Linked DNA regions of Homo sapiens. The protein of the gene in region 1 purifies or fractionates together with the protein of each later gene. This does not show direct contact. Each region holds a gene or a part of one and is shown in the gene's direction. Other genes may lie near its edges. The genes, in order: RNF144A, ADD1 and MYO5C.

Region 1 (3,649 bases):
CTCACCCCACAGCACTCACAGAGGGCAGGCAGAGAGTTGTCGGAGGCATCGCGGGGACGGGATGGGAGCATGACCCAGGCCAGCTGCCTTTAGCCTTTGGCGTTTCCTCCTCACTGCTCAGCGTGGCGCTCAGTGCCCCAGGCTGGCATGTGCACCCCCTCCTTGCTTTGCTGTGACTGTCAGCTCAGGGGAGCCCCAGGCATCTGCCCCCACACATGTGACCCACAGACAACAACTGCGTTTTCTCAAAAAGCCATTTTGTCAGACCTGACAGCTAGGAACATTCTTAGAAAAGCAAATGTGGAAACTATCAACAAATAAGAGAAGAGCTAATTTTGTCCATTCATTCAGTATGAGGAGCATCCTGGGGATTTTAGATTATTATAATGAAGATAATTAGAGTAGAGCACCTGTTCCTGACCTCCAGCGTTCCTTGTTATTATCAAGTTCTTCTTAATCTTCTGCCACCCCTAACATTCTGACAGTTTTGTGCTGTTGATTAATTCATGCTTAAAAAAAAAAAGGCAGAGGGCAGCCAGATGAGATCAAGGGTCAGCCAGCCATGGCTAGTGGGCCAAATCCAGTCCCGCCGGTGGCCTGCTGCTGTCAAGTTTTGCTAGAACATTCATTTCCAGATCACTGTGTCTGCTTTTATGCAACAGCAAAGCCCAGTAGCTGCGACAGAAACCCAGAAACAACATGGTCCTCAGACTTAGATGATGACTATCCGACCCTCTGCAGAGGAAGTTTGCCAGCCCCTGGATTAGATGACTAGATCATTTCAAAGCTAGACCCTACACAAGATGGTTTCTGGAGAGCTGAATCTGGCTTCCCCATGTATTTGGGGAACATGGTAAACACACAGAGCCTTACACATACGTATGCGTGTGCACCGTCAGGACACCCAGTGGGTGATTTGTCATTAACTTCCTGCTGGTCCCGTGGCAATGCGTGTAGGTGAAGTCCCGGTCCACGTGCGGCGCCAGCATGTTGTGGATTCCAGTGAGTAGGAATCCCATGTGTGACACAGGCGAGCGGGAGCTGCCCGGCGGCCAGTCACAGGGCCCAGACATTTGCAAGGACTTGTCATCGCCTTTCAAGTCGTCTCTGAAACTCAGTTGTCCTGACTACTTCCCAAGAAGAGCCCCGCTGAAAACTTAGAAACCAGTGGCCTACCAGAACGCCTTTGGAAATAGCCCACATTGCACTGGCCTGGGAGAGCTTTCTGGCAGAGCCTTGCTGCTCCCTGGGGTGGCCACTGATCGAGAATTCGGCATCATGCTGGACAAGAGGGAAGATGAAATGAACAACCAGTCTTCCTACAAAGGGCAGCCAATAATTTAAAGAAATGCAATTTTTGGACAAGGATGTGAAGAAATAGATGTGTCAAAGTGTCTTGTTTTTAGAAATAAACTTTGTGGCTAATTCCATTAAATTGGGCTTCTTAGAAATGTGTGCTGTGATTTGGAGAGAAAATCTGGCCCTTGAAGGATTGGTTTCACTCCGTAGTTAACTCGTGGCTTGGATTTGAGAAGGGGAGGCCATCTTAGGCAGGTGAACCATTTGGTTAGAAGAACAATCCAGCCATCTTCCTTCCCTCTTCCTCTCGGTCTTCTAGCAGCATTTTCCTGGTGCTGGCTGTATGCCCAACATGGGGCCATCAGGGGTCCAGCTTCAGAAAACTGTCCCCTAGGGGAGGCAGATGAGCTAGCGCCATGTGCATTGCTCAGAGAAACCCGACAGGCAGGTGGGCCAAGCTTTCCAGGATGTGGAGGCCTTTGAGCTGTGAGCTGAGTGTCAGAGGCAAGCAGGGCTGACCCAGGGCTCCAAGGGCATTCCAGGGGCAGGAGCAGCATTCCTGAGGGATGTCTGGGTGTCTGGAGGTCTGTTGCATGAAGGGAGAAGTTGGGAAGAGCTACAGCGGAGGTGGAGGTGGAAGGGTGGCTTGGGCGGTGCTTCGGTTGGGGCTGGTGGTGCTGGCTGTATTACCTGGACATGTTCCTCCCTGTCCGTGCACTGAGGGGCTCCTTCCTCTGAAGCCCACATGACCCTCTGGCTTAAGTTTGATTTGTCCATTTTGTCTCACTGTACCAGAGGTGCTGTTTGATCCCTGTCGGACTTGGTGCCCGGCGTCCACCTGCCAAGCTGTGTGTCAGCTCCAGGACGTGGGGCTGCAGACCCCCCAGCCAGTGCAGTGCAAAGCCTGCCGTATGGAATTCTGCTCCACCTGCAAAGCCAGCTGGCACCCTGGCCAGGGCTGCCCGGAGACCATGCCGATCACCTTCCTCCCCGGGGAGACCAGGTACCCTTTGTACACAAGCTGCCACCAAAGGCATGGCTGTGGGCCAGGAGAAGCAGGCATGCTTTCTTCCTAAAAGTGCTGTTACAGTGTAAGTGGCTGTGGCTCAGTCAACCCTAACACACACTGTACCTCTTGAGCCTCACTCAAGCCTGTCATTATTTGTATGTCTATTTATTTTTGAGAACTGACTATGTACCAGGCACTGTGTGAGGCCCTGGAAATAGAAAGGTGTGTGAGAACCACACTTAACACGGCTTGGCTGGAATGACAAATGCATGCGTGGTTTGTTACTTTTAAAGGTTGCAAGTCCTGCAGTACCTGAAGTTTCTGCAAGACTTCACTGTGTTGAAGGTGATCTGAAATGGGGGTACAGAAACAAGAACAGGAGTAGGGTGCACTGGTCATAAATACTGTCTGGAGGGGGATGGGGAGACACTCCCTGGTGGCGGCCTCCCCTGCAGCCATAGTCGGGCTGTTTGCCCAGGAGAATGCTGCCGCACCACGCTCTGTACTTTGACATTTCGTAGGTTGATGCATAGGAAATTCATCATATCCAGGTCTTTTTCTCCTACAAAATCTACAAGGTCACGTGGTTCTGCTGGACACTTGCCCCTGCTCCTGTTGAGTCCAGGATCCTCATAGAGGAGCTGCCACTCTACCCACCACCCTCCCCAGGGTGTGCTCACCAGCTGCTCCCTGTGCGCCCCTTTTCCCATTCCACCGTCCCCAGCTCCTGTTCCTTTCCGTGTGACCCCTGTGCCCTGTTCTAGCCCCCGACCCTCTCAGGGTCCCTGCCACACACCCCTGGTCTCCTTCCGGGCGAACCTCTCTTCCCGTGTCTGGAGTGCCCTGCTCTGCCCTCCTCCTTTCCCTGGGGGCTCCTGCCACACTTCAGGTGGGGATCACATCCCTTTGTCAAGCTTCATGGTTCCGAGGACAGGGTTGGGGCCTCCACCCTCTGTGTTCCCCCTGAGATTCTCTGCATTGATTACAACCCTGGACATATTGGATTTGAGTTCTTGCGTTGACAAGGCCGATTCTGCCATCAGGATGAGCTCCTGACACACAGGGCCTGGGCCTTTCTGAGCAGCCTGCATCAGGCAGGCAGCTGCAAGCACGAACCACTTGTACTTATACTTCACGTGTACTTGGCATCTTAGGGGCTTCAAAACTTTAGATGGAGGCTGGTGAGTGTTTGGAGCCTGATGACTTAGTTTTCTTTATCTGTGACATTCTAGTCTCATTTAAATTATTGTCCAAAGATGATCTAAATCAAAATTCAGAAATCTCATTTTGTGGAAATTTTTAAATCAGAAGATGTCACATAAAAACTGGAATTTCTGGCTT
Region 2 (3,649 bases), on another chromosome or scaffold:
TTGTTTTTTGTGAGACTGAATCTCACTCTCTTGCCCAGGCTGGAGTGCAGTGGTGCGATCTTGGCTCACTGCAACCTCCACCTCCCAAGTTCAAGCGATTCTCCTGCCTCAGCCTCCTGAGTAGCTGGGAACAGGTGTGTGCCACCATGCCCGGCTGATTTTTTTTTCTGAGACGGTGTCTTGCTCTGTCGCCCAGGCTGGAGTGCAGTGGCACGATCTTGGCTCACTGCAAGCTCTGCCTCCCGGGTTCACGCCATTCTCCTGCCTCAGCCTCCTGAGTAGCTGGGACTACAGGCGCCTGCCACCATGCCCGGCTAATTTTTTGTATTTTTAGTAGAGATGGGGTTTCACCGTGTTAGCCAGGATGGTCTCAATCTCCTGACCTCATGATCCGCCCGCCTCGGCCTCCCAAAGTGCTGGGATTACAGGCGTGAGCCACCGCGCCTGGCCACGCCCGGCTAATTTTTATATTTGTAGTAGAGATGGGGTTTCACCACGTTGCCCAGGCTGGTCTTGAACTCCTGACCTCAAGTGACCCACCCGCCTCGGCCTCCCAAAGTGCTGGGATTACAGGTGTGAGCCACTGTACCTGACCCCCAGTAGGCAAATCTATACAGGCAGAAGGTAGATTTGGGGTTGACTGGGGCTCCAGCTGGGGAGAATGGAGTGGGAATGAGGAATGACTGCTAATGTGTATGGGGTTTCTTTTTGGGTGTTGAAAATGTTATAACGTTAGATTGTGATGATTAGTTACACAACTCTGAATACACTAAAACTCTGTATACTTCATTTAGAGACAGTCTTGCTCTATTGTTCAGGTTGGGGAACAGTGGTATAATCATAGCTGACTGTAACCTGGAACTCCTGGGCTCAAGTAATCCTCCCCACCTCAGCCTCCGGAATAGCTAGGACTACTGGTGCATACCACCACAGCTGGCTAATTTTTAAAAATGTTGCCACTCAAGATGTGTGGCCCTGGATCAAAATGGTGAAATTCTCTGAACTAATTTTTCTCATCTGCAGAAATAGGAGTAATAATAATAACAGTCATATCTAACTGGAGGTGTGAGGCTGTGGTAAGCAAACTTACAATGCTTACAGTATGTGAGGATTCTGTCAGTGTGCTTTCTTTCCTTCTTTTCCAGAACATAGAGGATGGAGGAGCAGGCCTTAAGAGGGAAAGACACAGAAGATGCAATAGAGAGCCTTGTAGCTCTTTTTTGTCTGTCTCTCCCTCTCTCTCAAAATAAAGCCTATGTAGAGGTATTTTTTTGTCTGATACAGCTGCATGTGTTTGCAGTTTAGTAGGAACTTTGTGGTTAAACCATGCTTTCTAAGATTTTCTTAAAAGGCCAACCTTGTTGCCAGATGATACCATTAATCAAGTTATTCAAGTTATTGTCACATAGGGCTTCAGGCAGGAAGGAAGGTTAGGAATGGTCTTTAGTCTCATAGAATGAACTCCCTTTTGGTCTGAGTGTCTCCTTCAGTAGGAAGGGATGTGATGTTAATTGACCAGTCTTTAGGGGGGAAATAGATGACCCCCACCATCCGGATACTCAGTTTTTATTCTTTTTTTTTTTTGAGATGGAGTTTCGCTCTTGTTGCCCAGGCTGGAGCGCAATGGCTCGATCTCGGCTCACCGCAACCTCCGCCTCCCAGGTTCAAGCAATTCTACTTCAGCCTCCCGAGTAGCTGAGATTACAGGCATGCATCACTACGCCCGGCTAATTTTTGTATTTTTAGTAGAGACGGGGTTTCCCCATGTTGAGGCTGGTCTCGAACTCCTGACCTCAGGTGATCTGCCCGCCTCAGCCTCCCAAAGTGCTGGGATTACAGGCATGAGCCACAGCACCCGGCCTCTTTTCTTTCTTTCTTTCTTTCTTTCTTTCTTTCTTTCTTTCTTTCTTTCTTTCTTTCTTTCCTTTCTTTCCTTTCCTTTCTTTCCTTTCTTTCCTTTCTTTCTTTCTTTCTCTTTCTTTCTTTCCTTCCTTCCTTCCTTCCTTCTTTTCTTTTCTTTTCTTTTCTTTTCTTTTTTTTCTTTTCTTTTCTTTCTTTTTTTTTTTTTTTGAAAGAGAGTCTCGCTCTTTCGCCCAGGCTGGAGTACAGTGGTGCGATCTTGGCTCACTGCAACCTCCGCCTCCCGGGTTCAAGCGATTCTTGTGCCCCAGCGTACTGAGTAGCTGGGATTACAGGTGCACAGCACCACACCCGGCTGATTTTTGTGTGTTTTTGTAGAGATGGGGTTTCGCAGATACTCCATTTCAGTTTTTTTCTGAGCAACGTCTCCAGGGACTGAAGCACACATACTTTGACAACAGAATCACCAGCAATGTCACTGACCTAGGGTGTCTGCAGCATTCAGTGTCTTCTATTTTCTGTACTAGGTGTTTTCTGTACTGTTTGTAAAGCAGGAAATATCTTTTTTTTTTTTTTTTTTTGGAGACAGAGTCTTGCTCTGTCACCCAGGCTGAAGTGCAGCGGTGCGATCTTGGCTCTCACTGCAGCCTTGACCTCGTGGGCCCGAGCAGTCCTCCCACCCAGCTTCCTGAGCAGCTGGGCCTGCAGACCCACCCCACCACACCCAGCTAACTAAAAAAATTTTTTTTTTAGTAGAGCCAAGGCCTTGCTATGTTGCCCAGGCAGGCCTGAAGGTGCTTTTAAACTCAGATAAGCAGGACATTTGTAGCTGTGGAAATAGCTGTAATCTAACCATCAGAGTTGTTTTAAGGATACAAATTACATATAGTGTTTAAAGCATAATGAATGTACAGGTTGCTAGATTGGGTTTTACTCTGTTCTTTCTGTAACTTTTTAGAAGTTGGTCACTTACTTTTTTTTTTTTTTTTTTTGAGACAGGTTCTCACTGTGTTGCCCAGGCTGGAGTGCAGTGGCACGATCTTGGCTCCCTGCAACCTCTGTCTCCCAGGTTCAAGCAATTCTCCCACCTCAGCCTCCCCAGTACCTGGGATTATAGGCGCCCACCACACCCAGCTAATTTTTATAATTTTAGTAGAGATAAGGGTTTCACCATGTTGGCCAGGCTGGTCTCAAACATCTGACCTCAGGTGATCTGCCCACCTCAGCCTCCCAAAGTGCTGGGATTACAGGTGTGAGCCACCGGCGTCTTTTTCTAGTATAAGTGTTTAAGGCTATATAGCTCTCTAGAAGCATCTCTTTAGTGAAGCCAATAGTTTCCAACTGTAATATTTTTGTTAGTAATGTATATTTAAATTTTCATTATGATTTCTTTTTTGGCCCATAAATTATTTTAAAATGTACCTTTAAATTTCTAAATATATGGTTTGAAGAAACTCTTCTGTTATTATGTTGTTTTTTTTTCTTTCAGACTGAGTTTTGCTCTCGTCACCCAGGCTGGAGTGCAATGGTGCAATCACGGCTCACCGCAACCTTCGCCTCCCAGGTTCAAGCGATTCTCCTCCCTCAGTCTCCCAAGTAGCTGGGATTACAGGTGCCCGCCACCACGCCTGGCTGGTTTTTGTATTTTTAATAGAGACAGGGTTTCACCACATTGGCCAGGGTGGTCTTGAACTCCTGACCTCAGGTGATCCACCTGCCTCGGCCTCCAAAAGTGCTGGGATTAAAGGCGTGAGCGACCGCGTCTGGCCGTTATTATGTTTTAATTGCA
Region 3 (3,649 bases), on another chromosome or scaffold:
TTATACGTCTCCTTTTTCTTTTTACTAAACAAATGTTACTTGTCTAAAATGAAAAATTTTTGTTAAAATCACATTATAGAAAGCTTAGAAAACAGAAGGAAAAAATTGCCATAACCACCTGCCCTAAATGTACATTCTTATTTGTTTTCCTTCCTTAAGGGAGCTCCTACCTCCTCCCATGTCCTGGTTGGGTGTTGCCTTGGTGGCCTAGCCCAGTGCCAGGGCTCACAGGAATGGCTTGTGCTTGTCTATGTTTATCGCAGAGGCCGGTGCTGTGAGTCAGAGCTGGTCATTCCCGAGTGACTGATGGTGGAGGGAGGGGACAGCAACCTGGAAAGCTGTGATCACCTTTGTGTGCTAGCAGAGTACTGTAAAATATTAAAATATAGGATTGGCCGGGTGCAGTGGCTCACACCTGTAATCCCAGCACTTTGGGAGGCTGAGGCGGGTGGATCGCTTGAGACCAGGAGTTTGAGACCAGCCTGGCCAACATGGCGAAACCCCATCTTTACTAAAAAATACAAAAATAAGCCAGGCGTGGTGGCACGCACCTGTAATCCCAGCTACTCAGGTGGCTGAGGCAGGAAAATTGCTGGAACCTGGGAGGCGGAGGTTGCATTGAGCCAAGATCACGCCACTGCACTCCAGCCTGGCTGACAGAGTGAGACCCTGTCTCAAAAAAAAAAAAGAAAAAGAAAAAGAAAAAAAAAAGATAAGTTTTTAGTGCTTAGACTTTTTCAGATGGGCTCCTGAAAAGATGCCTATGAAATGAAATGATCATATGTCAAATTATATTTCCTAGCTATTGTCATAATTTCAGGGTTCTGGTCCCATAGGAAAAGGGAGGGGGAAAGACCAGACTCCATAAAAAGCACATATGGGATTTCTTTCAAGGGTCTCTCTTTATAGGATGTAGTTTCTGGACATGTAATTCTCTCACCTGCCACTTCCAAGAAGTCTCCCTTAAAAGAACTAGGCAGCGTTTGGGCTGGACTATGGATTGATTGGTGGGAAGAACCCACATGCACTATGGGGTTAGATTAGGTTTTCAATCTCATTGGCCAGGGAAATCAGGTCGTATTGAATGCAAGTCAGCTGAGCTTAGATGTAGCAGCTCAGCACATCTTCCTTTGGTCCCAGAGTCCCCAACAGAGGCACCAGCTGCATGTGACACTGTCCCCACAGATGCTCGCCCAGACCAGGAAAGCTCTGTATTTGCCACCTTTGTCTATCTGTCCTAGTGGCTCACACCACCATTCTGGAAGAATTTGTACAACAATCCAGGTACTTCATTCACAAAGAAGTGTTTGCAAACAGCCGGTGTTCCTGGATCTTAACCTACCTACCGGCAAGGATACTTCCTTACCTGGGGGACAAAGCAGAGGCCATGCCCAGGGAACCCTCTGCTTACGGATTCCAGCACTCTCCCCTGTTTCCTCATTGTCAATTTTTAAAATTAATTTTAATATACGTTTTTAATTTATGAAAAATAAATTATCACATATTAAGATATGCAATCCAGAGGCATAAACTAGGGGGAGGTTGAATGTTGAAGCAGCCACCCTGGATATGCCATGGTTTGAGGCATTCGAGAAGCCTTCTTCATCAGAAAGGGCAGCATGGAGAGTTTTTCTAAGCTAGATTCAAGCAGTGCAAAGGTTGACCCACTCTAAACCTGATTCTGAGGGCTTGGTGGCTCTTGAAGGCTTGGTGGTCAGCTGGTCGGTTTTTCTATCCTTTCTACCACATTAATGTTGATTTAGGAAACGATGTCTGTTTGAACCCAATGAACACCACTAAGCTTTTTCCTCCTCCTGGTGGCTTCAAAGGCAAAGGGAGACCTAAGTCAGGTGTTCTTGTAGGAACTGCACATACCGCAGGGAGCAACTGGACCCCTGTGGCCAGAGGGAGCCAACAGGTGAGTGCAGAGTGATCAGCAGGCAGGTGAGAAACCCAGGTGGTGGGAGAGAAGACACATTCCCAGCTTATACATAATGGGGCTGCTGCCATGATGCACAGAAGCCAGACGTCTTTTTGTAAGATTGCCTCTGTAGCCTTTTTTATTAATCTTTCTTAAAAAAGAGATGAAACTTGTGCTTAGAGGCTATATTCTTTGGCCTCTTTGGGAATAATTAATTGCTTTCTCTGTATAGGTAGAGTATAAATGTGAAGGTTTCCTGGAGAAAAACAGAGACACCGTCTATGACATGCTGGTTGAAATCCTGAGAGCAAGCAAGGTCTGTAAAGTCCTAGGGGTAACTAAAGTTATTATATAATTGACATGGATCTAGATGTATATAAGGAAAGAGTAAGGAGAGAGAGAGAGAGAGTGTGTGTGTGTGTGTGTGTGAACTCTCTGGACAGTGGTAAGTTGTAGCTCACAGATTCAAAAAGATAACTACTGTAAATCTCTACTATATGCAAAATCAGAAATCAAACATGCAGATGACAGGAAGGACAGCTAATAGAACCATTGAAGAATCACAATTCCAGCCAGACGTGGTGGCTCACGCCTGTAATCCCCGCATTTTGGGAGGCAGAGGCGGGTGGATTGCTTGAGGCCAGAAGTTTGAGACCAGCCTGGCCAAAAAAGCAAGACCCTGTCTCTTCTAAAAATATAAAAAAACATTAGCAGGGAATGGTGACATGCCTGTAGTCCCAGCTACTTGGGAGGCTGAGGTGGGGAAGACTGCTTGGCCCTGGGAGATAGAGGCTGCAGTGAGCCATGATTGCGCCACTGCACTCTTCTTCTGGGCAGCAGAGCAAGACCCTGTCTCAAAACAAAACAAAACAAAACAAAATATGAAATTCACTCTGAGAGAAGATAAGACATTTAAAGAAATAACTGATACAAAGCAGAAGGTAGTAAGTGCTTTAAATGAGGTACAAATACAAGATGAAGACGGTTCAGAGAAGTTGGGATTAATTCATTCATTGCGAAGTGGGTGGGGCTGGAAAACATTTTAAGAGATTCCTGGGTAGGGTTTGGATCTGCAGGGATGAGAATGTGGAGTAGGAGGGAGGAGATTGCAGGTGGAGACACAGTGTGAGCCAGGCACGGAGGTGAGAATAGTAGATGTTTCCACTTTCTGACACTTAGAGTGATACCCACATACAGACATTTACACACTTTTCTTCTCTGTTCCCCTTCTCGGGAAAGAAGTCACGGGCCATCCCTATGAAAGACGATCGTCTTGTGGAATTGAGATTTGGCTGTAGATGTTGGTGAGGTTGTTCACCGCCCACTAGTTTAGCTGAGTTGTTGTCACCATTTACGTGGCTTGTATGAGTGAGTACTGTGGGCAGTTGCTTTTGGACATTGAGATCCTCTCTGTTCCTTCCAGTTTCATCTCTGTGCCAACTTTTTTCAAGAAAATCCAACTCCTCCTTCTCCTTTTGGTTCAATGATTACAGTTAAATCTGCAAAGCAAGTCATCAAGCCAAACAGCAAGCATTTCCGGACCACAGTTGGGAGCAAGGTACTGAGAAGGTGTTTGAGAGTGAGGGGTCTAAAGGCAGGGCCAGGCCCTGGGGAGCCAGGGCACTCAGAGGACCCGCATTCCAGGCCTGGACATGGACAGACGCTGGGGCTCTTCCAATCTAACATGGACTCCACTGCAAAAAGTTCATCGTCGTCATACTTCCACCT

What was found.
Region 2: the proteins of RNF144A (region 1) and ADD1 purify together in Homo sapiens (affinity purification with mass spectrometry, with the first as the bait; one large-scale study listed by BioGRID). This does not show direct contact.
Region 3: the proteins of RNF144A (region 1) and MYO5C purify together in Homo sapiens (affinity purification with mass spectrometry, with the first as the bait; one large-scale study listed by BioGRID). This does not show direct contact.

What each region holds. Positions count from the first base shown.
Region 1 is NC_000002.12:7,018,379-7,022,027, forward strand, and holds part of RNF144A (E3 ubiquitin-protein ligase RNF144A), read left to right. Parts: intron 1-2,094; coding exon 2,095-2,302; intron 2,303-3,649. UniProt on the Homo sapiens protein: E3 ubiquitin-protein ligase which accepts ubiquitin from E2 ubiquitin-conjugating enzymes UBE2L3 and UBE2L6 in the form of a thioester and then directly transfers the ubiquitin to targeted substrates.
Region 2 is NC_000004.12:2,850,275-2,853,923, forward strand, and holds part of ADD1 (alpha-adducin), read left to right. Parts: intron 1-3,649. UniProt on the Homo sapiens protein: Membrane-cytoskeleton-associated protein that promotes the assembly of the spectrin-actin network. Binds to calmodulin.
Region 3 is NC_000015.10:52,247,288-52,250,936, reverse strand, and holds part of MYO5C (unconventional myosin-Vc), read left to right. Parts: intron 1-2,153; coding exon 2,154-2,237; intron 2,238-3,344; coding exon 3,345-3,479; intron 3,480-3,649. UniProt on the Homo sapiens protein: May be involved in transferrin trafficking. Likely to power actin-based membrane trafficking in many physiologically crucial tissues.